3 linked regions of the Homo sapiens genome follow. The protein of the gene in region 2 purifies or fractionates together with the protein of the main gene of each other region. This does not show direct contact. Each region holds a gene or a part of one and is shown on either strand. Other genes may lie near its edges. The genes, in order: STK3, ADCYAP1 and AMD1.

Region 1 (3,665 bases), on a different chromosome or scaffold from region 2:
AGTGCTGGGATTACAGGCATGAACCACCGTGCCTGGCCCCCGTTGTTCTTTATTTATGTTATAGGCTGTGGGTACTCCCAGCTTTACCTTTATTCACATTTTTCCTTTAGAAAAGTTTGTGTTACTTTTTGCCTGAAGAATAATCTATGTTTTATTCTTCCATCAAAGCCTACCTCATCAAGTATGTTTTCTGAGTACTTTCTAGCCTGAGATATTTCACTGAATTCCTAATGTGATATACATTTGATTATATACCATCTTTTTATTCTATTTTATTACAAAATTTTAGATATCCAGAAGATAATGAGGGCCTACTGCGATGGTGCACGCCTTGTAATCTCAGCACTTTGTGGGGCTGAGGTGGGAGGATTGCTTGAGCCCAGCAGTGGGAGGTTTCAGTGAGCTATGATTGTGCCACTGCACTCTATCCTGGATGACAAAGTGAGACCCTGTCTCAAAGAAACAAAAATAAAAATAAAAACAAAACAAAAAGAAAAAAGAACAGAGCCTAATTTAATAGATACTTAGGTATTACCATCCAGTTTAAGAAATATTAATAAAAATATTACCAATACATTTGAAGCCACCATGTGTATTTCTTCTCAATTACACTCCCTTCCCATCCCCCAAAAGGTAATCACTGACATGAATTGGATATTTGTCCTTCCCATACATGCCTTTATATTTTTAGTATGTTACATATATATGTGTGTGTGTATGTGTGTGTGTGTATGTATGTGTGTGTATATATATATGTATGTATGTACACATATCAACACATAATGTTAGGCATGGGTATTAGGCCTGGCCTTGTCACTGACTTTGAAATTTGCTTCTTTGGGCATCTTCTTCTCCTCTGGGAGTTGGAGATTCCAGTGTGTAGCCCAGTTCAAGAATCATGACTCAGAGACCTAGATGATTTTTAAGGCACCTCTCACCCTCATATTCATTGATTTGGTCTCCTTAACAAGGTTTGTGTTAAACATAGGCAATAGATGTGGTCACCCATGTCACCAACTTGAGGTACCAGAGTAGTTTTTAGATTCCTTAGATTTCGTTAACATACTTGTCACTGAGGTCTTCAGAAGTCCTTTTTTTTCTTTTTAACTTTTTTTTTTTTTTTGAGATTGGGTCTTACTCTATCGCCCTGGCTGGAGTGCAGTGGCACAATCATGGCTCACTGCAGCCTTGACCTCCCTGTGCTCAGGTGATCCTCTCACCTCAGCCTCCCTGATTAGCTGGGACCACAAGCACGCACCACCATACCTAATTTTTTTTTTTTTTAATTTGTAGAGATGAGGTCTTGCCATGTTGCCCAAGCTGGCCAAAGTCGTTATTAAAAGGATTTCCCTCTGGGAAGGGAAATTCATTAAATCATAGATCCCCAACCATTTTGGCACCAGGGACCAGTCTCGTGGGAAACAATTTTTGCACAGATGGTTTGGTTGGGGGCGAAATGGTTTCAGGATGAAACTTCCACCTCAGATCATCAGGCAATAGTTAGATTATCATAAGGAGCGTGCAACCTAGATTCCTTGCATGCACAGCACAATAGGGTTCGCACTCCTATGAGAATCTAATGCTACTGATGATCTGACAGGAGCTGGAGCCCAGAGCAAGGGCGGTAATGCTCGCGTATAGCTCACCTCCTGCTGTGTTGCCTGGTTCCTAACAGGCCATGGACCAGTACTGGTCCACTGTATTGTGCTGTAAAGGAGTTGGGGACTCCTTTATTAAATGATCATTAATTAGCATTTTGGTTAGATGGAATTTGTTGGATTTATTTTATTATTTTATTATTTTTTTTGAGGTGGAATCTTGCTCTGTTGCCCAGGCTGGAGTGCAGTGGCACAATCTCGGCTCACTGCGAGCTCCGCCTCCCAGGTTCACGCCATTATCCTGCCTCACCCTCCTGAGTAGCTGGGACTGCAGGCGCCTGCCACCACACCAGGTTAACTTTTTTGTATTTTTAGTAGAGATGGGGTTTTACCGTGTTAGCCAGGATGGTCTCGATCTCATGACCTCGTGATCCACCCGCCTTGGCCTCCCAAAGTGCTGGGATTACAGGCTTGAGTTACCGCGCAGCCGAATTTATTGGATTTTTTATAGGGGAACTGCTAGCTGAGAGAAAAATGACCACATAATAGTCCAGCTTTGATAGGTAGAAAGGTAAATGACCAGAAAACATGGGCTCTTCACCAGGTGGAACCTTCATAGAAGGGAGGTGGGTCTCTATGATAGACAGGTGGGCAGCATGAAAATATATTTAATACTTGTCAAAGAGAGGACAGAATATCACTGCTGGAGTGAGACACTTTACCAGATAGGCTTGTTCCTCAAATAGGTTATAGTGTTAGTAGTTATTTAAAATGTGTAATTCGTTGATTAAGGTATGGTTGGAGGGCAGGTTAGCATTGAACAATGAAAACACTAAAAGGATAGTAAAAGAATAAGCTATTGAAGCATACTTACTCTCAAGACAGGTGAGTTCTTTAATTTAAGCTATAGTTGGATTCTGTGGCAATTTTTTATTATTATTTTTAATAGTGTGAAAGGGTAGTTTGGGGGAAATAAAATTGAAGGTTGAAGTCATATGTTAGGGGTCCTTCACGCAAATGGAAAGCTAGAAAACACTAATTTCATAAGGGCAAATGAGTGTTTGGATGGATTACCCATCAGAAAACAGATTATTATGGAAAGAAAAAGCAAAGGGATCGGGTTGAGAATATAGAGGAGTTAAGCAGAAAGTACTCATGAATTCTTCAGCATGAAGAGCCCACATCAACTTGTAGCATCTGTAGCCCGGATCTCAGGCCAGGAATTAGGAATGGAGAGAGATAGCAGATAACTCTCAGCGCTTATGAATGGAAGTGGGTGAGAGAAAGCAACACACCAGTTAAGTAGATAGTAGGAATATCACAAAGATATTATTGCAGGGAGAAGAGGGGTGGATGTCATTTTATGTGTATATTTCTAATTTATGTTTCCTTGGAATGTTGGAAAGTAAAATTGTGTGTATATCAGAGAGATTGACTAAATAGAGAGCTGGAGTTGTCTTTGAGAAGATGAACTCTAAGAACTCTTAAAAAAACCCCAGCAGACTCAGAGGAAGGCCCTAGGGAAAATTTCCAATTCTAGAGGTAGGCAAGTGGACAAAATATTCAAAGTAGTTAGTCCAAGGGGAAAAGAACCAACCAAACAGGAGCATCTCTGAATTAACAACTTGGTCCCTAAAGCATCTGCTGTCTTCCCTTTGGCTTTTCTTGGTTAATTTAGGGTGGCATTAACTTGATTAGGATTGCTTTAGGCCGTGCTGATGGGAATAGTCAGTTGGCTCTTCCTTCTTGGAGAGAGGGAGTGCGACAATAAAATTTGCAATACTTCCGGTAAACAAACTTCTGTTGCATGTCAACTAGAGAAACTCAGTCTTTAGTTGACTCTAGGAACACTTCAGGCCATCATATATTACTGGCTTTCAACATTTAAAAAAAAAAATTCATTGATACTGAGACTCAGTACAGACCCACACATTTACATAAATGGGAGGTAGAGGTGGGACAATTGCTTGAGCTCAGGAGATTGAGGCTGCAATGAGCCATGATTGTGTGGATGCATTCCATCCTGGGCAACAGAGCAAGACCCTGTCTCAAAAACGTTCATTGGGC
Region 2 (2,566 bases):
ATATGGAGAATTGCTGAAGGGCATTCTTTCCCAGTGAGTCTCTGGGGCAGGCTGCTTCAATCCCAGCCTAACTCAACTGGGCTCTGTCCCCCTGGTTGGGTGGCAATTCCAATATTTCTGCTTTCTTTGATTCTCCTTTTATGTGTAGTTGTCTCTCTTCAGACTCTCAGCCCAGAAGAAAATTCTCCTGATAAAACAACAGCTCGATCCAAATTGTGCTTCTCCCCAGAATTCACGCCTCTCCCTAGGAGAAGAGTTGAGGAACTGTACAGAAAAGGGCGGCTTCGTTAGACCGCTCTCTTTTCTGTACTTCCTGAGTGGCCAGGGAATCTAATATCCCCAAATTAGGGCAATTGGAACAAAGTGAAGGACATAGAGGTATATTGGAAGAGGCAGAGCCTGAGGTGGTAGGAGGAGGACCCTGGAAATGGACTGGTTTGAGATTGCCCCAGGTCTGGGAAGCTGAGGGCAAATCCAGTCCCAATGGTCCTGACTTTGGGCGCTGGGTATTGGAAATGGATGCAAAGTACAATGTGTTTTTCTCCAGTGCTGTCCATGCTTCTCATCTTGTGAAATGGCCAGGATCCTCTCCTTTGAAACCTGCTCTGTAGGAGCTACCCTTTTCCTTTGTGGTTTTATGGAGACCTCTCCTTCCTACCCTCCTGCACTGTTTAAGTACTGTTTACCATTTTTCATTCACTTCTCTTAAACTTGTGAATGCTTCTCACTTTTTTTTTTTGTTTGATGCAGGCACTTATTGTAAATTTTAGAAACCCCTCTGTAGCCACTAGTAAGTAATTATGCACTAAATATGAACCCTTTGTTTCTTGTTTATTGAGTTTGTAGGTAAAATGTATTTTTCTACATTATTGCTTATTGCTTAGTAAAATTTATTTCATAAAACCAACCTTTGTCATATTAGAATGTGTAGTGTTCACATGTTGCTCAGTTTTGCTAACTGATAAATCATTTAATCCTCTTCTTCATATGTATGAGTACTATCTTATATCTGTGGTCAAGAGTGAGGTAAGCAAGCTCCAACAGACCCTGAGAACCTACGCTTGTATCCTTTCTTTGGCTAAAGAAAGCATGTCTGTTTCCTGTCAATTCTTTGAACATACAGAGTAATCTTTATAAACAAAAGAACCTTCACCCAGCAATCAGATCGAGCAGCAACAGACAAACCAGCCAGCCAATCTCCCAAATTTCAGGCACAAGTTTATTTATTTATTTTTTTATGTTTTGAAAAAAGAAGATGAAGAAGAAGAAAAAAAAAAGAACAAGGAAAGATTAAACGTTAGCTTGTAAAGTTTAAAGGACCTTTCCTTTTCCTTTACGGATTTGATCAGTATGAAGTCATAAATCAAAGAAAACAGAATTGGATTTGCATTCCCAGGCGGGATGGATGCTGCCAGGAGATCACATTGCAAATAGTGAAAACAGAGGCATTCGGTCTATGCCTGAGTCCTGTGTATAGGATCAATCTTCCTTTAATTCCGCAGTCTCCTCAGGCAATGTGACACGGGATGCAGTTTGCAGCTTTAGTGCCTTTCTTCGCCTTTTAAATTGCCACGAATCACAGATGGCTATTTAGTGGCCCTACAATGCTGCAACACATCAGCTTGCATTTTAGTCTTAATTATTTGTTTCTTGGATAATGGGCAGAGTTTTCTGTATTTGTATCAGCTGTTAGTGGTGAAATAGGGCTCTAGTTAACCTTTTATTTATGAAGTCTAATTTAGTGTTCCCGTGGCTAGTTGCAAGCATTTTACAGTGATCACCCAGTTTAATCTTTTGTATACTTTTTAGAAATGCCAAGAGCCTTACTAAACTGAAGCAGATTTATGATATAGTGATAATTTAGGTAGATGTTAGTCTTGAAGCTCTTATTTTGTGTGCAACTGATTATAAAAACACCTTAACCAAGTATTATTACACACATGATATCTATAACTAGGACTTTGATAACTGTTATATAAAGTGTGTAAAATTTGTATGAATAAATTTTTGTAAACAATGCAACTTGGTCTAATGTTTGGGAAAAAAGACATTCAGGAAATAATTACTTTAAAATCTCTTAAAGTATTATATTTCTTTAGCAACCATAAGATTTTTTTACGTCTGGAATATATATCTATCTAAGCACCCTTGTATTTTCATGAACTGCACTTTAATAATTGATGGGCAACTGGATTCTGCTAAAAATTTAAAGTAGCTACTCAGATGGAGATGCCTAAGAAGGTTTTAAGCTCATAAACAGGCATGATGTTGCAACATTATAAGACACACAATTTAGATTAATTTCCATCCCCTAGTGTGTATATACTTTGCTCAATATTCAGAAAGTTACTAGGTAGTAGTGGGAGACAATGCTGGAGCATTAGTTACACATCTAAAATAGCAATCTAACATTGTTCTTTTATTTTTTATTTTAGTGGCCAGGTCTCACTATGTTGCCCAGGCTGGTCTTGCTCAAGCGATCCTCCCACCTCAGCCTCCCAAAGTGCTGGGATTACAGGCGTGAGCCACCACACCCAGCCTAAAATAGGGATCTAACATTGTTCTT
Region 3 (2,380 bases), on a different chromosome or scaffold from region 2:
GAAAGATCAGAATATACATTTTCATAAGATTTTTCAGCTTATTACATATTTGACTGTGGAACTAAAATGTTGCCAAATAAAGAAAATGACAAAGCCAAGTGTGATGGCAGAACCCTGCATTCCCAGCTACTTGGGAAGCTGCAGCAAGACTGCTTGAGCCTAGGAGTTCAAGGAAGCAGTATGCTATGATCGCACCTGTTAACAGCCACGGCACTCCAGCCTAGACAACAGAACAAGATCCTAAATTAAAAAAAATAAAGAAAATGATCAAGGTTATAAATTTTTTTCTACTTAATAGAAATAACCATGAATGAAATAAGGAAACTTATTTGAGTTTGATCATCCTCAACCAATGTTTTAAGAGTCTAGTCTATAATAAAGGTTGGGACCTAACACTTTTAAACTTCTGTCTAACTCCAAACTCATAAATACACATTGTTGTATTGATTTTAAACTTCAGACATGTAGTATTTGGTCAAGTAGGCTACTTAAAAAACAGGGCAACAGAAAAGTTTCTGAATGTCACTAGACAATTAAACTTTTATTGAAGCGTAAATTGTGGTACAGAAATACATTTCAACTGATTTAAGTCCAACACCAGTGAAAGGAGAAATTATGGCACCAAAACTTTCCCTCTTCTATCATACGATGATTTAGATTATGATTCAAACTACATTTCTCTTTTCTAGGCTTTGTCCCATAAAAATTTGTGCAGTTTTTCAACATTAGAATTCTTAATTCTATTGGAAACAAAACAAAACAAAACAAAACAAAAACAAAACCAAACCAGACCTCAAGTCAACAAATCTATTGGGATATTGTTTACGAACAAAGTCCACCTTAAGCATTGGTCCTCAAAACAGAGCTCCTCAAAATATTAGGTGCTGTGCTCATTACAGAATCAAACTGATCACACTGATTGAAAACTTCCTCAATGAAATTTTCAATCAACAACATGCTTCAAATAAAAGTCAAACAGTGTTCCAACCACTTGATTTCAAACCAAGTAGATTTTAGGTTTAGAAACACTAAAAAAAGGTGTTTCATTTATAAATACGGAAGGAACAAAAACATCACTGCATCAATCCAGAAATTATCAAAATATTTAGAGGACAAGAAATATAAAATTTAGTCAACTTTGCTGTTTTCTCAGTTCCTTAAAATCCCAGAGAATCTGCAAATATAGCTAAAAGGTACCAACTCTTGAAAGCCTATATTACTAGTCATTTCCCATTGAGTATTTTGGAATTTTATTATTCTATTTATTCATATTCTACTTATTTATAATGTATTCTGCTTTATGATGTTTATCTGAATAATCTGGACAAATTCTCATTCTGGGCAGTCATTCATTTCATCCTATGAATGCCATGGTAAGGGAAACACCGTAGTTAAGAGGAACAGATGAAGTCGGAACACTCACATGCATCACAGTCACAGAACTTTAAGTCACGAGATGGAAAAGACATTGATTCTGCTTTGGATCAAAGTTTATAGAACACTACTTAATGGAAACTAGTGGAAATGGCTGCTAAAGGAAAAGTTAAGGTGAATGATCCAAGCTGACTTGATTTACTGAATCCAGAACAAAATTATGCTAAATCTCTCTGGTAATTAACTAAATAAAAATGATTTTATACTACTACTAAGTTAGTAAAGGGGTGCTACTCATTAGACGCTAATCTCATTTACTGAGGAACACAGAATTGTATGTTTTCCACAGTTCAGCCAGTACACCCTAATCTCAATCTACAACTCTGGGTCTTCCCTGCTAACCAACTATTTTCCAAAAGAGCACATTACAATAAAAGAGAGGCTAAATTCCCATGCCCTTTAAAGAATATTAAGCCCAGGGACCATCTCCCCCATTCCCCATCTGGGGTATAGAATTAGTATATAAACCCACAGTGTTAACAGTGTATTGCTTTATTTGGGGTCTTGGGGGAGACACCAGGGAGAGGGAAGAAATCAAAGGACTATAAATGCAGGGTCCAATAATGTTAAAATAGCAAATATGCAAAATGAGTAACTGGAATCATTTTCTTAAGGACTCAACTCATGGAAGAAAAACTTTAATTGCTGTTTCCAAAAACATCAGTATGAAGTAGAAATTGGTTTCAATAACATTAGTAAAGAATATGTTCTAGAAAGTGGAGGTAACTGGATGTAAAATTCTGGCAGCAATTTAATAGAACAGTCCTAGAGGGTTAGGCTGAGGCCAACACCTAATGAGGACGAAAGCCTTGTCTGTGGGGAATTTTGGATGATACTTGGAGAAATATTACACTGTGCATAAACCAAATTGAGTTGCTTTCACAAGTGTTGTAAAGTTTCATATAGTAAAAGGTTTTTTCTACATGCACTTCAATTTCACAGCAAG

What was found.
Region 1: the proteins of ADCYAP1 (region 2) and STK3 purify together in Homo sapiens (affinity purification with mass spectrometry; 4 studies listed by BioGRID and IntAct, with this or other methods). This does not show direct contact.
Region 3: the proteins of ADCYAP1 (region 2) and AMD1 purify together in Homo sapiens (affinity purification with mass spectrometry; 3 studies listed by BioGRID and IntAct, with this or other methods). This does not show direct contact.

What each region holds. Positions count from the first base shown.
Region 1 is NC_000008.11:98,819,120-98,822,784, reverse strand, and holds part of STK3 (serine/threonine-protein kinase 3), read left to right. Parts: intron 1-3,665. UniProt on the Homo sapiens protein: Stress-activated, pro-apoptotic kinase which, following caspase-cleavage, enters the nucleus and induces chromatin condensation followed by internucleosomal DNA fragmentation.
Region 2 is NC_000018.10:910,151-912,716, forward strand, and holds the end of ADCYAP1 (pituitary adenylate cyclase-activating polypeptide preproprotein), read left to right. Parts: 3' UTR 1-2,022; downstream 2,023-2,566. UniProt on the Homo sapiens protein: PACAP is a neuropeptide involved in diverse array of physiological processes through activating the PACAP subfamily of class B1 G protein-coupled receptors: VIP receptor 1 (VIPR1), VIP receptor 2 (VIPR2), and PACAP type I receptor (ADCYAP1R1).
Region 3 is NC_000006.12:110,893,846-110,896,225, reverse strand, and holds the end of AMD1 (S-adenosylmethionine decarboxylase proenzyme), read right to left. Parts: 3' UTR 513-2,380; downstream 1-512.